Homo sapiens: one gene and its partners. Changing the gene in region 2 together with the main gene of any one other region gives a genetic interaction. Each region holds a gene or a part of one and is shown on either strand. Other genes may lie near its edges.

Region 1 (3,038 bases), about 16 Mb from region 2:
ATTAAAAATACAAAAAAATTAGCTGGGTGTGGTGGCAGGCACCTGTAGTCCCAACTACTCGGGAGGTTGAGGCAGGAGAATCGCTTGAGCCCGAGAAGCAGAGGTTGCAGTGAGCCAAGATCATGCCACTGCACTCCAGCCTGGGCGACAGAACAAGGCTCCATCTCAAAAAAAAAAAAAAAAGAAGGAGATTAGGACACAGACAAGCAGAGGGAAGACCATGTGGAGGCATGGGGAGAAGACAGCCATCTGCAAGCTACGAAGAGAGGCGCCTGAAGGCTGGGGCAGGAGAACTGCTTGAACCCAGGAGGCAGAGGTTGCAGTGAGCTGAGATCACGCCTCTGCACTCCACTCTGAGCAACAGAGTGAGACTCTGTCTCAAAAAAAGAAAAAAAAAAAAGGCCTCACAGGAAACCAACCCTGCCCACATCTGGATTTCAGCCACCAAAATTGTAGGAAGTAAATCTCTGCTGTTTAAACCACCAGTTGGTGGTACTTGTTACAACAGCCCTAGAAAACTAAAACAATCCGGAAATCCCAAAGAGAAATGTGTTTTTGTTAAGGATGCCCAAGTAAAATGCAGGCCAGTAAACTGCTTGGCACATTGTAAGAAGGAAAAAAGAAGAAAGAAAGAAGCAAAGGCATAATGCATTGACATTTTTTTATATTTGGTATTTGTAAGTCTTTAAAAAAATGTTTTCAGGCCATTTTTTCCTTAAAAAAAAAAAAAGCAACCAACAGCAATACTCTGTACAAGTATAACAAACATTAGAAATATGCATCATTCCAAAATAGTTACAGGAAAATTACAGTTTAGAGTCCACATCAACACATCCTATTTGTATGTGCCCCCAAGGGAGAAAAAGCTACAGTATGTTAAACACACAGCTGCTACACAGTAGTCTGAAAACCCAGGACTTAAAACTTTTGAGGCAAATCAACAACAGTCACCAAGACTTGTTTAGCTCAATAAGTACAATCAAGCATTTCAAAAGAGAACCAGGCTTTTTCATCCCAGATGAAAAACACACGTGATGGGCTGCATAGCTGACCCCCGCCCCTCGATCCCCAACCCCCGGGAGCCTCTGACTCAACAGAGCACAAATCCAGTGGAGTCAATTAGGCGGAAGTCTGGCTGGAGGTCACAGTATGGCTGCAGTGGGCAGACACCAAATGTCATTTCCTGCTGGTGCTGATCATCACTAGATCCAACTTTGGAGGCAAAAAGTCGTTGTTCCTGGGAGATGCTATCAATGGCCCAAATCCCCCAAACCAGCTGGCCACCAGTCTTTGGCCCTTTCATTGACACCCAAACCCATACCAGCTGCTTTTCTGTATGCAATTGTCAAAGACTGAACAGGGGTGCTCACACCATCCCCCCGATTCCACTGGACTCTTCCAATTTGAGCTCATTGTTCCTGGGAGGGGTTGAAGCTCAGAGGCACCCTCCTCTTGCCTCTGACCAACCCCCAGCCTGTGTGTCCTTTATATTTACACATTAATCTTCCCTTTTCAAGCACTGTGCTATAAATACCCTTACCACCCCCACTGGCCCTGTCCCCAGCCCTTTTCAGGATGCAGAGAAGCATCGTGACCTTCGTGTGACCTGCCCATTTGGAATCCCAGACCGCTCCCCCGCAAGAGTTCCTCCCATGATTGCTGGGGCCGCTTGCCCATTTCCCAAGCCCACACCAGGCGGAAGGGAAGAGGGTTCCTGTGTTTTTCATTTTTATACAATATGTTTACAGTTATGTTGCTTTAATCTTTTAAAGTATTTAACCTTTTAAAGGATTTTTTAGCAACAAGTCCCTTCCTCTGACTTCTCTGTGGCAGTGATGTGGGCAGAGCAGGGCTTAGGAGCTCCCTGGGATTTGCCACCCATCACAATGGTTTCGGACATATTGGAGGGGAGAGGGCCACAGCCCACAGAACTGCTGCCTGAACAGGGACCTATGAATGAAGTACCGACCGCTCCGAGATCTGTATGAGTTGGAGGCAGGCCAGTGTGAAGGTGTGGGAGGAATCCGCCCACACCCAGCTTCATACAGCACCCTGAGGACAATGTGGCTTCCCTGATTCACACCTACTGAGCCAAGGCCCCCTCTGAAGTTAGGTCAAGAGGGCCCACCCTAGCCGGGCCAACTCATTCCTTTGAGGACCTGATACTCAATGAACTGCTTACTACCAAAAAAATGCAAAGGATTCAGCAAAAAGTGCAATTTCCATTTGAGAAGTAAGATTCTCCCCAAAACATGACACCACCTTTTCATCCTTTCAGTACCTCAAAGGGAAAGGGAAATAAAAGGCATACAGCACTAACCCTCCGAACCACAGCCGGGGCTTTAAAAGTGTGGTTCACCCTTTAGAACCCTAAAAGACCCATTAACACGTCCAGTCAGTTATCGAAGTGCCAGTGAGGTGAGGGGCGTGGCAGAGTCAGGAGGGACCAGGAGGCTGGAAGAGCCCGCTCACATTCTCAACAGGACACACCTGTCCTGTTTACAGCAGGACACATTACTGTGGCAACAGCCACAGGACTCCAGGGACTTGGTTATTCCTTCATAAAACCTTGTCAACTTCATTGCCTATTGGAGGATAAACTCAAAACATCTTCAAAATATAACCTGAGCCACAATATAAAATAAAAAGAAAAAATCTTTTCATGTTAATGCCTTAAGAAGTTTACAGATTATGTACCAATAAAATAAATCCACATAAATTTGAAATTCTTGGTGGATACACACCTGAAGCAAAAAAAAAAAAATTAATCTACATTTTAAAAATCAAAGTAATTACAGCAGCAGTATAGTGAAAAGGTTTTAAAAATAATAATTACATCTTTGATACAAATTCAAACTTTGTACACCTCAATTCATAGGAATGACTGTTTTTGAGAGCTTAGTGTATATATATATATATATATATATATATATATATATATATATATATATACACAGTAGATTCCGATATGTGTCACGGCAGAGAGAGACGAAAGCCAGTGGACTTTGGGGAAGGAGGGATTAATCTGACACTGAATT
Region 2 (4,131 bases):
CTGACCAGGGCCTCTAGCCTGATGCCTGAGAGGCGGGGCAATTCGGCTGGGGTGCAGGATGTGAGTCAGGGTACCTGGGGCCACCCAGGGGAGGGTGGAGCTGCCCAGGGCTGAGATAAGGCAGCCTGAACTTGGGGGGTGCAGAGCTGGGAGGGACGGTCCGTCCGGCCTCCCAGGTGTGACCTGCAGCAGCTTGAGTTCCTCCTCCTCTCAGCCAGGGCTTCACAGGACAGGGGCGTGGGGTGGACACCCTGGCCTCTCCAGCTGGCAGAGGAGCTGAGAGCCCCTCCCACCGGCCTCAGGGTGTGGGGCCTCATGGCTGTCCCACTCTGCTAGGTGGCCCCATTGGTGGTCAGGAAGGGAAAGGCAGGAAGAAGACGGAGCAGGGGCTCAGGAGGACCAGTCAGCAGGGGCCCTGGGCCTCATGGGGAGAGGGGGCAGCCCCGTGTGGCACTGACATCTCTTCTTGAGGCCTGCTCAGGGCTCTAAGCTGGGTACTGCACCAGGCTAGGAGACAACAGGAGCAGAACACGTGAGGTGCGCATGGCACCTGGTGGGCTCTGCACGGTGACTGGGGGCTGAAGTGCTTCTGCAGGCACCCCCGACAGAAAGCTGGTCAGAAAACTGGCCACTCCTCTCCTTGCCATGGGGTCCCAGGCCGGGCTCCAGCCCCCTCTTGGTGATGAGGCTCCTCCTTGCAAAGGCCAGTCCTCTGGGGAGAGGGGCCCTGCTGGCCACCCCCAGGACGATGGAGTGGGGTGGGCTCCACTGCCTGAGAGTTGGGTGACTTCCAGGATCCAGACCCCCTCTCAGCCTGCCCAGCACCAGGCACCTCGTCCCCCACCTTGGGGCACAGACTCCTAATGTCCTCCAGCCACTGGCTGCAGCCGGCATTCCCGGGCAGATTCCTGGCTTGGGGACTAATGCCCCAGAGGCTCCAGGTTACCCACGGGCTCAGGGATGGCTCCCACGGGGTGTTTCCAGTTCCCGGGAGAGTCGAGTAAGGTCCCGGAGCGCACGGCCCTGAGGCCTGGCCTGGGGGCTCGGGAGACAGGGCGGCCCCAGCCGGCCGCCCACCGGCAGCCCGGCGCTGTCACGTTCCAGCCGCCTGACTCAGGCCGCGCAGGGCGGGGAGCCGGGAGGCGGTGCCGGCGCCCGCCTCGGCCCCGGAGGCGGCACCAGGAAGCGCCCGCCCCGGCCGGAGCCGCCATGTAACCGGCGCCGCCCGGAGCCCGAGCCGCGCGGGCCCCAGCGACCCGCCCGCCATGGGGGACGAGGACGACGATGAGAGCTGCGCCGTGGAGCTGCGGATCACAGAAGGTGGGTGTGGGGCCTGACTGCGGCTGCCCGGGGCAGGCCGGGACGGGTCATGGACCGGCTGGGCTCATTCGCCCCCTGTGCCCACAGCCAACCTGACCGGGCACGAGGAGAAGGTGAGCGTGGAGAACTTCGAGCTGCTCAAGGTGCTGGGCACGGGAGGTGAGGACCCCCATCCACCGGGCAGGCGTCCCAGGCGCGGTGCCCCTGACCTCCTGCCTGCTCACTCTTGGGCCTGGGCCAGGCCACTGAGCAGGCCCCCCACCCTTTCCCGGCACAGCCTGCCTTGCCTGCCCCGCCCTGCCTCGCCAGAGTTTGCATGCCCACTTCCAGGGCACTCCACATTGACATCACTCCTCCCTCCACGGTCCTGTGCGTGCATACCCCCCTGGATTTGCCAACACCCTGGGGAGGGGGACTGGCGCCCCTCTCAAGTGATTTGCATAGCTCCTCCCTTTCTTCCAATATGGGATCCCCCTCCCACATTTTGCAAATGCCCCAGCGCTGGTTTGCGCATCCCTTCCCCAGCCAGGTGCACACCTCTGCCTCCCTTCCTTGCACTGGCATCTTTTCACATCCATCTGATCTCTCGCAGGTTTGCATATGCCCCGCCCCCATGCCTCGCAGCAGGCCCCCTGGAGATGCATGCTCCCCAGCCTGGTTTGCACATCCTTTCCCTGGTTTTGCTGGGCACCCTCCCGGGGTGTGCACACCCTTTCCTTAGAAGGCTCTGCCAGCTTTTTGCACACCTGCCTGTTGCCCCAGCTCCTTCGCCTCATTTGCACACCCTCCTGGGTTGGCATCGCCCCCACCCCCCAAGCCTGCACCAATCTCCCGCTCACAGCCCACCCTCCACCCACTCGCTGCTCCCACAGCCTACGGCAAGGTGTTCCTGGTGCGGAAGGCGGGCGGGCACGACGCGGGGAAGCTGTACGCCATGAAGGTGCTGCGCAAGGCGGCGCTGGTGCAGCGCGCCAAGACGCAAGAGCACACGCGCACCGAGCGCTCGGTGCTGGAGCTGGTGCGCCAGGCGCCCTTCCTGGTCACGCTGCACTACGCTTTCCAGACGGATGCCAAGCTGCACCTCATCCTGGGTGAGCGCACACCACATCCCAACGGGGTTGGGGTGGCTGGGGGCAGGCGAGGCCACCTGACGGGGCTGCTTCCTGACTTCCACTGCACCTCCCAGACTATGTGAGCGGCGGGGAGATGTTCACCCACCTCTACCAGCGCCAGTACTTCAAGGAGGCTGAGGTGCGCGTGTATGGGGGTGAGATCGTGCTGGCCCTGGAACACCTGCACAAGGTGGGTGAAGACCTGGCCGCAGGCTGTTGCTATGGAAACTGGGTCTGTGCCTTGGAAGGAATCTGCACGCAGGGCAGCCTCAGGCTTCCCCCTGGGCTTCCTGGGGGGCCAGTGGTGAGCTGGGTGGGAATTGGAGCTGCTTCCCCTGGACCCCTTGCAGGAAGCCTCAACGTTGCCTGGTGGGGTCCCCTCCCCTGGCACCTCCTCGAAGGGGCTTTCCTCTTTCAGGGAACTCGGGGCTGCGTTCACAGAACTTCCTCAAATGGAAACCTCACGGCCTGGCTCCTAAGGCCTCCTTGAAATGGAGCTCTTCACACAGACTTTCCTCTCTCTGGGACCTTGGGGCCTGATCCACGGGGCCCTCCTTCTTTGTTTTATATCTTAAATGGCCTTTCTTATTCAGTGGCTCTGCCCTGGAGACCCCCTCTACAGGCAGATGACTTTCTCTGGGGGGTCTCCTTATCCTGAGCAGGGCCAGGAGCTGGAGGAGCTGGGGAGGGTTTCGGGGAGGAAGCCTCAGCACCCCTCTTGCTCCTACCAGCTCGGCATCATTTACCGAGACCTGAAACTGGAGAATGTGCTGCTGGACTCCGAGGGCCACATTGTCCTCACGGACTTCGGGCTGAGCAAGGAGTTCCTGACGGAGGAGGTGAGTGGAGGCCACCTCTGCCTGCAGTGCCCCATTCAATCCTTCTCCTTCCTGCCTCTTCCTGCTCTGGGCCTGCATTCTGGGGCTGCAGAAGTGAATAGCTCCAAGAAGTTTCCACAGCTCAGCTCTCCAACCTCACAAGTTGAGCGAGTCTTACTCTGGGCCTTGTGGGGCACTGGGGCACAGGAGAGGTTTCGACATCTAAGCAGGACCTCTTGCCCTCCCAGAAAGAGCGGACCTTCTCCTTCTGTGGCACCATCGAGTACATGGCCCCCGAAATCATCCGTAGCAAGACGGGGCATGGCAAGGTAGGTTGGCAGGGAAGTGGGGCTGGGGGAGGTGGAAAGGTGGGGTGTGAGGCAGGGGAGATGCAGGCCCTCACCCCGGCTCCACCCGGCAGGCTGTGGACTGGTGGAGCCTGGGCATCTTGCTCTTCGAGCTGCTGACGGGGGCCTCGCCCTTCACCCTGGAGGGCGAGAGGAACACGCAGGCTGAGGTGTCTCGGTGAGTAGGGCTGGACGTGGAGGGCGGCCAGAGGGCTGCAGGGCCTGCCTGGGCAGGGCTGTGGGTGGGGGGCTTGCTGCCCCTGACACCCCCCCAATCCTCCCAGACGGATCCTGAAGTGCTCCCCTCCCTTCCCCCCTCGGATCGGGCCCGTGGCGCAGGACCTGCTGCAGCGGCTGCTTTGTAAGGATCCTAAGAAGCGATTGGGCGCGGGGCCCCAGGGGGCACAAGAAGTCCGGAACCATCCCTTCTTCCAGGTGAGGCTGACTCAGGGCCCCATACCTCCTGGTGCATACCCAGGTGGGGCTGCTGTTCCAGGTTGAGGTTGTGCCTGGCCAGTTTCACTTTATTTGGAA
Region 3 (3,647 bases), on a different chromosome or scaffold from region 2:
TGTTTAACCTGGGATCATATGGAGAAGTCATCATGTGTGTGGCTCAGCTGTGGTCGAGGACACTTGGGGCATGTCAGAGACTTTCTGGTTCTTCTCTGACATGTGATTTGAAATTGTCTTTTCTCCTCCTTGTCATCTCTTGGCCATGTTTGTAGCTTGTCCAAGGTCTGGGAGCTAGGGTCTCTTTGGAATTGTCAGAGTTATTATTTTAGTCTCCCTGAGCCAGGTTTCGGAATCCATTCTAATCACGCTTGAAGAAAACTCTTGGTTCCACCTGGGACATGTCTGGGACATTTAAGAAATCACATTTAAACCCTATCTGGGGCCTGTCTGTGGGGTACACAGAGGTCATGTCAGACTATCTCAGGTCCATGTCAGGAGATGACAGAGAGTGCTATGGCAGACAGGGTGTCCGAGGTCCTTTAAAGGTATTTTGTAGAGTGTGGAGCTGTGTTCAGTTGTTGCAGAACATGTTGGGATATATAGGAGCCATGTCAAGGCGTGCTGGGGTGTGCTATGACCTGTTAGGTTGTGTCATAGCTTTACTGTGCTGTTGCAGCCTGGGCTGGTCCTTCTTCCTCTATCCTCCCTTCGTCCTTTGCCCTTGGCCCCCTTCCTGCTATGCTGGGCATGGAGTGGGGAAAGTGCTGGTAGGCAGCCTTGCCCTATACCTGAAGTTCCTCTCTTGCCCTCTACATGGCCCCTGATGGTCCTCGTTCATGTCAGCTGCCATTGCACCCAAGGATAATCTCTTCATCAGGTTCCTGAAGCCCTGGCTGGGTGAGTACCTGCAGGTGAAAGGGGTTGGGGACAACCTTGCGGGGAGGGTAGGGGAAGTGCTGCTCTTGCCCACTGTCCTTGGCTGCCCTACTAGGAGAAGGGATACTGCTGAGTGGCGGTGACAAGTGGAGCCGCCACCGTCGGATGCTGACGCCCGCCTTCCATTTCAACATCCTGAAGTCCTATATAACGATCTTCAACAAGAGTGCAAACATCATGCTTGTGAGTCCCTTGAAGTCTGGGTCCCAGATGGAGTCTTGGGGTGGAGGGACCATGGACACATCTGGTCTGGAATTTTGGCTCTTCTGGGTGGCACTGGGCCATTGCTCTTCCTCTCTGAGCCTTGGTTTCCTCATCTGTAAAATGGGGATGATAATCCCTACTTGAAAGGTCATTTACTTGGCACACAGTAGGTTCTCAGAAGGTGTCAGTTTCTGTGTTTTTCTCACAGAATCCCTGTAAACTCAAGAGAGTAAAAATGAAGATTGTGTAGTAGTCATTGCTGATTATAAACCACTTCAGAACTCATTGGCTTAGAGCCATAAGGGTTTACAATTGCTAACGAGTCTGTGAGACAGCTGGCCAGTTCTTCTGGATGTGGAAGGGATCACTCTTGGCACATGAGCAGCTGTGGGTCGGGGGGCAGCTTTGCTGATCCTGGCTCAGTTCATTCACGTTTGGGGCTTCAGTACCTTCAGACTCATCTGGGATGGGCTCAGCTGTGACACCTGGACTTTCCCCCATGTGATTCTCTGCCTCCAGAAGGCACCCTGTTGTTCACATGGCAGAGACTGGGCTCCGAGAAACTGAGAGGAGGCTGCAATGTCTGTGGACATTGTCTCTGCAATACTTCAAAGTTCAACCAGGTTTGAGTCTATTAGAGTTATTACATCATCATTTCACCACATTGTACTGGCCAAAGAAAGTCGAAAGTCAAAAGTCCAGTACAGACTCAAAGGGGTGTAAAATAGAACGCATCTCTTAATGGGAGTTGCTGAAAAATTACTGTGGAAAGGGTACGAATACAGGGAGAAGTGAAGAATTGGGGGTCAGGATTTTGTGAAGTGTCTAGGATTTGTTTTAAATATGCAAACTGATAAGTTAGCTTGTTACTGTCTCATGCATTCTAACAGATTCCTGGGTCAGAGACAAAGGGTAGTTGATTACTCATGGCACAATAAGCAACATGTACTTCTTGTTGGTTTGTATCCTTTTTCTGAGTCAACCTAAATTCCATGGGGGTGACACTGGTGGGCCTCTACATTAGCCTGCTCATGCAGTACATTGCATGACATACAATGGGCATTAGGCTTAGGGAATCTACTTTAATAGTGGCAGAAACAAGCCTGATATTGGTCCAGGAGGAGTCATTGCCTTATCTCTCCAGGTGGTTATCTGCAAATACAACTCTGAGAAATGGCTCAGGTAAGAACATCACAGTCTTGCATTGGTGGCATACGCAGCAAGGATGCTCAGGGCTGATGAAGAAGTGCCTCTTCCAACACAGGGATATTTTTGAAATGAATTTATTACAATGGAGATGAATAAAGCAAACATTTACTCATCATATGCCTGAGAAAATGTCATGTCCCAATGCCAGGATATAAGTTGTCTAAGTTAATTTTAATAATCCTGTGAGGTTATGGTTATTTTTGTCCTATTGCAGATGATGAACTGAGGGCCAGAGAGATTAGGGAGCTGGACAGAGTTCAACCAGCCAGGAAGTGAGCTAGGACTGGTGGAGCAGAGATTCTATCCTGGTTTATCTGGCCCCAAAGCAGATCACCTTGACCGTTATTGAATATTTGACAGGTGGGACCTAGAGGAGGGCAATATGTTGACCAAGGGCACATAGAGCATAGGAGACAGAGCTGAGACTTGAATGCAGGTCTCTTGACTCCAAGCCATGGGTCTTCATCTCCTATACTAACAGTTTCTGCTCGCATCCCAGTCTGGTCCTCGCTGGCAATGGGTTCCTGGGGCAGAGGACCAGGAGGCTGGTTGTGGGGGAGTCCATCCTGATGTTTGGGACTGGGGAGGGGCACAAAGGAGGCAGGGCCCAGCTCTAGCTCTCTTCCCTTCTCTGGCCAGGACAAGTGGCAGCACCTGGCCTCAGAGGGCAGCAGTCGTCTGGACATGTTTGAGCACATCAGCCTCATGACCTTGGACAGTCTACAGAAATGCATCTTCAGCTTTGACAGCCATTGTCAGGAGTGAGTTCCTTCCTAGGGCCTGGGATATGAATCCATGGACCAAAGGGAGAAAGTTGGGGAGGGAGGAATGAGCAAAGTAACCAGAAGTACCTTTCGGGAGGATTTGTATCATAGCTGTGCTTTGAAGGTCGAGGAAGAGGAGAAAGTGCTGTCTTTCCAGGTAGAAATATGTGTGTAAAAGCAAGAAGGTTAGGATGAGCCAAGCATGTGCAAGAGACAGTAGAAATGAGGTTGTGGAAGTAGGGGCTAGATATTAAGGGCACTGAAAATCAGGAAAAGTGGTATGAAGTTTATCAAGACATTTCCAGAGACCTTTTGTAGTTTCAGCTGATGATGGATGTGATAAGAGCTGAGCTGTGTGGGAAACTGATAGCCCACCACCACGCCCAGCTAATTTCTGTATTTTCAGTAGAGAGGGGGTTCACCATGTTGTCCAGGCTGGTCTCAAATTCCTGACCTCAGGTGATGTGCCCTCTTTGGCCTCAGAAAATGTTGGGATTACAGGCATGAGCCACTGTGCCCAGCTGCTTCTTCTTTCTTACAGGGTGAAAGAGAGAGGGAGAGAGAGAGAGACAGAGAGACAGAGAGAGAGAGAGAGAAAGAGAGAGAGAGTTGGTTATGCTGGGGGCTGGAGCAGGGCTGAACTGGAAGAGG

The links.
Region 1: changes in RPS6KA4 (region 2) and PTPRJ together harm fitness more than expected from each alone (negative genetic interaction), as found in Homo sapiens cells (one large-scale study listed by BioGRID).
Region 3: changes in RPS6KA4 (region 2) and CYP4F12 together harm fitness more than expected from each alone (negative genetic interaction), as found in Homo sapiens cells (one large-scale study listed by BioGRID).

Annotation. Positions count from the first base shown.
Region 1 is NC_000011.10:48,168,449-48,171,486, reverse strand, and holds the end of PTPRJ (receptor-type tyrosine-protein phosphatase eta isoform 1 precursor), read right to left. Parts: 3' UTR 648-3,038; downstream 1-647. UniProt on the Homo sapiens protein: Tyrosine phosphatase which dephosphorylates or contributes to the dephosphorylation of CTNND1, FLT3, PDGFRB, MET, KDR, LYN, SRC, MAPK1, MAPK3, EGFR, TJP1, OCLN, PIK3R1 and PIK3R2. Plays a role in cell adhesion, migration, proliferation and differentiation.
Region 2 is NC_000011.10:64,357,971-64,362,101, forward strand, and holds the start of RPS6KA4 (ribosomal protein S6 kinase alpha-4), read left to right. Parts: upstream 1-1,191; 5' UTR 1,192-1,265; coding exon 1,266-1,320; intron 1,321-1,407; coding exon 1,408-1,479; intron 1,480-2,192; coding exon 2,193-2,411; intron 2,412-2,506; coding exon 2,507-2,622; intron 2,623-3,163; coding exon 3,164-3,271; intron 3,272-3,498; coding exon 3,499-3,579; intron 3,580-3,671; coding exon 3,672-3,775; intron 3,776-3,881; coding exon 3,882-4,032; intron 4,033-4,131. UniProt on the Homo sapiens protein: Serine/threonine-protein kinase that is required for the mitogen or stress-induced phosphorylation of the transcription factors CREB1 and ATF1 and for the regulation of the transcription factor RELA, and that contributes to gene activation by histone phosphorylation and functions in the regulation of inflammatory genes.
Region 3 is NC_000019.10:15,679,518-15,683,164, forward strand, and holds part of CYP4F12 (cytochrome P450 4F12), read left to right. Parts: intron 1-726; coding exon 727-780; exon of another isoform or gene 781-874; coding exon 875-1,002; intron 1,003-1,172; exon of another isoform or gene 1,173-2,196; coding exon of another isoform or gene 2,197-2,205; exon of another isoform or gene 2,206-2,592; intron 2,593-2,871; coding exon 2,872-2,993; intron 2,994-3,647. UniProt on the Homo sapiens protein: A cytochrome P450 monooxygenase involved in the metabolism of endogenous polyunsaturated fatty acids (PUFAs).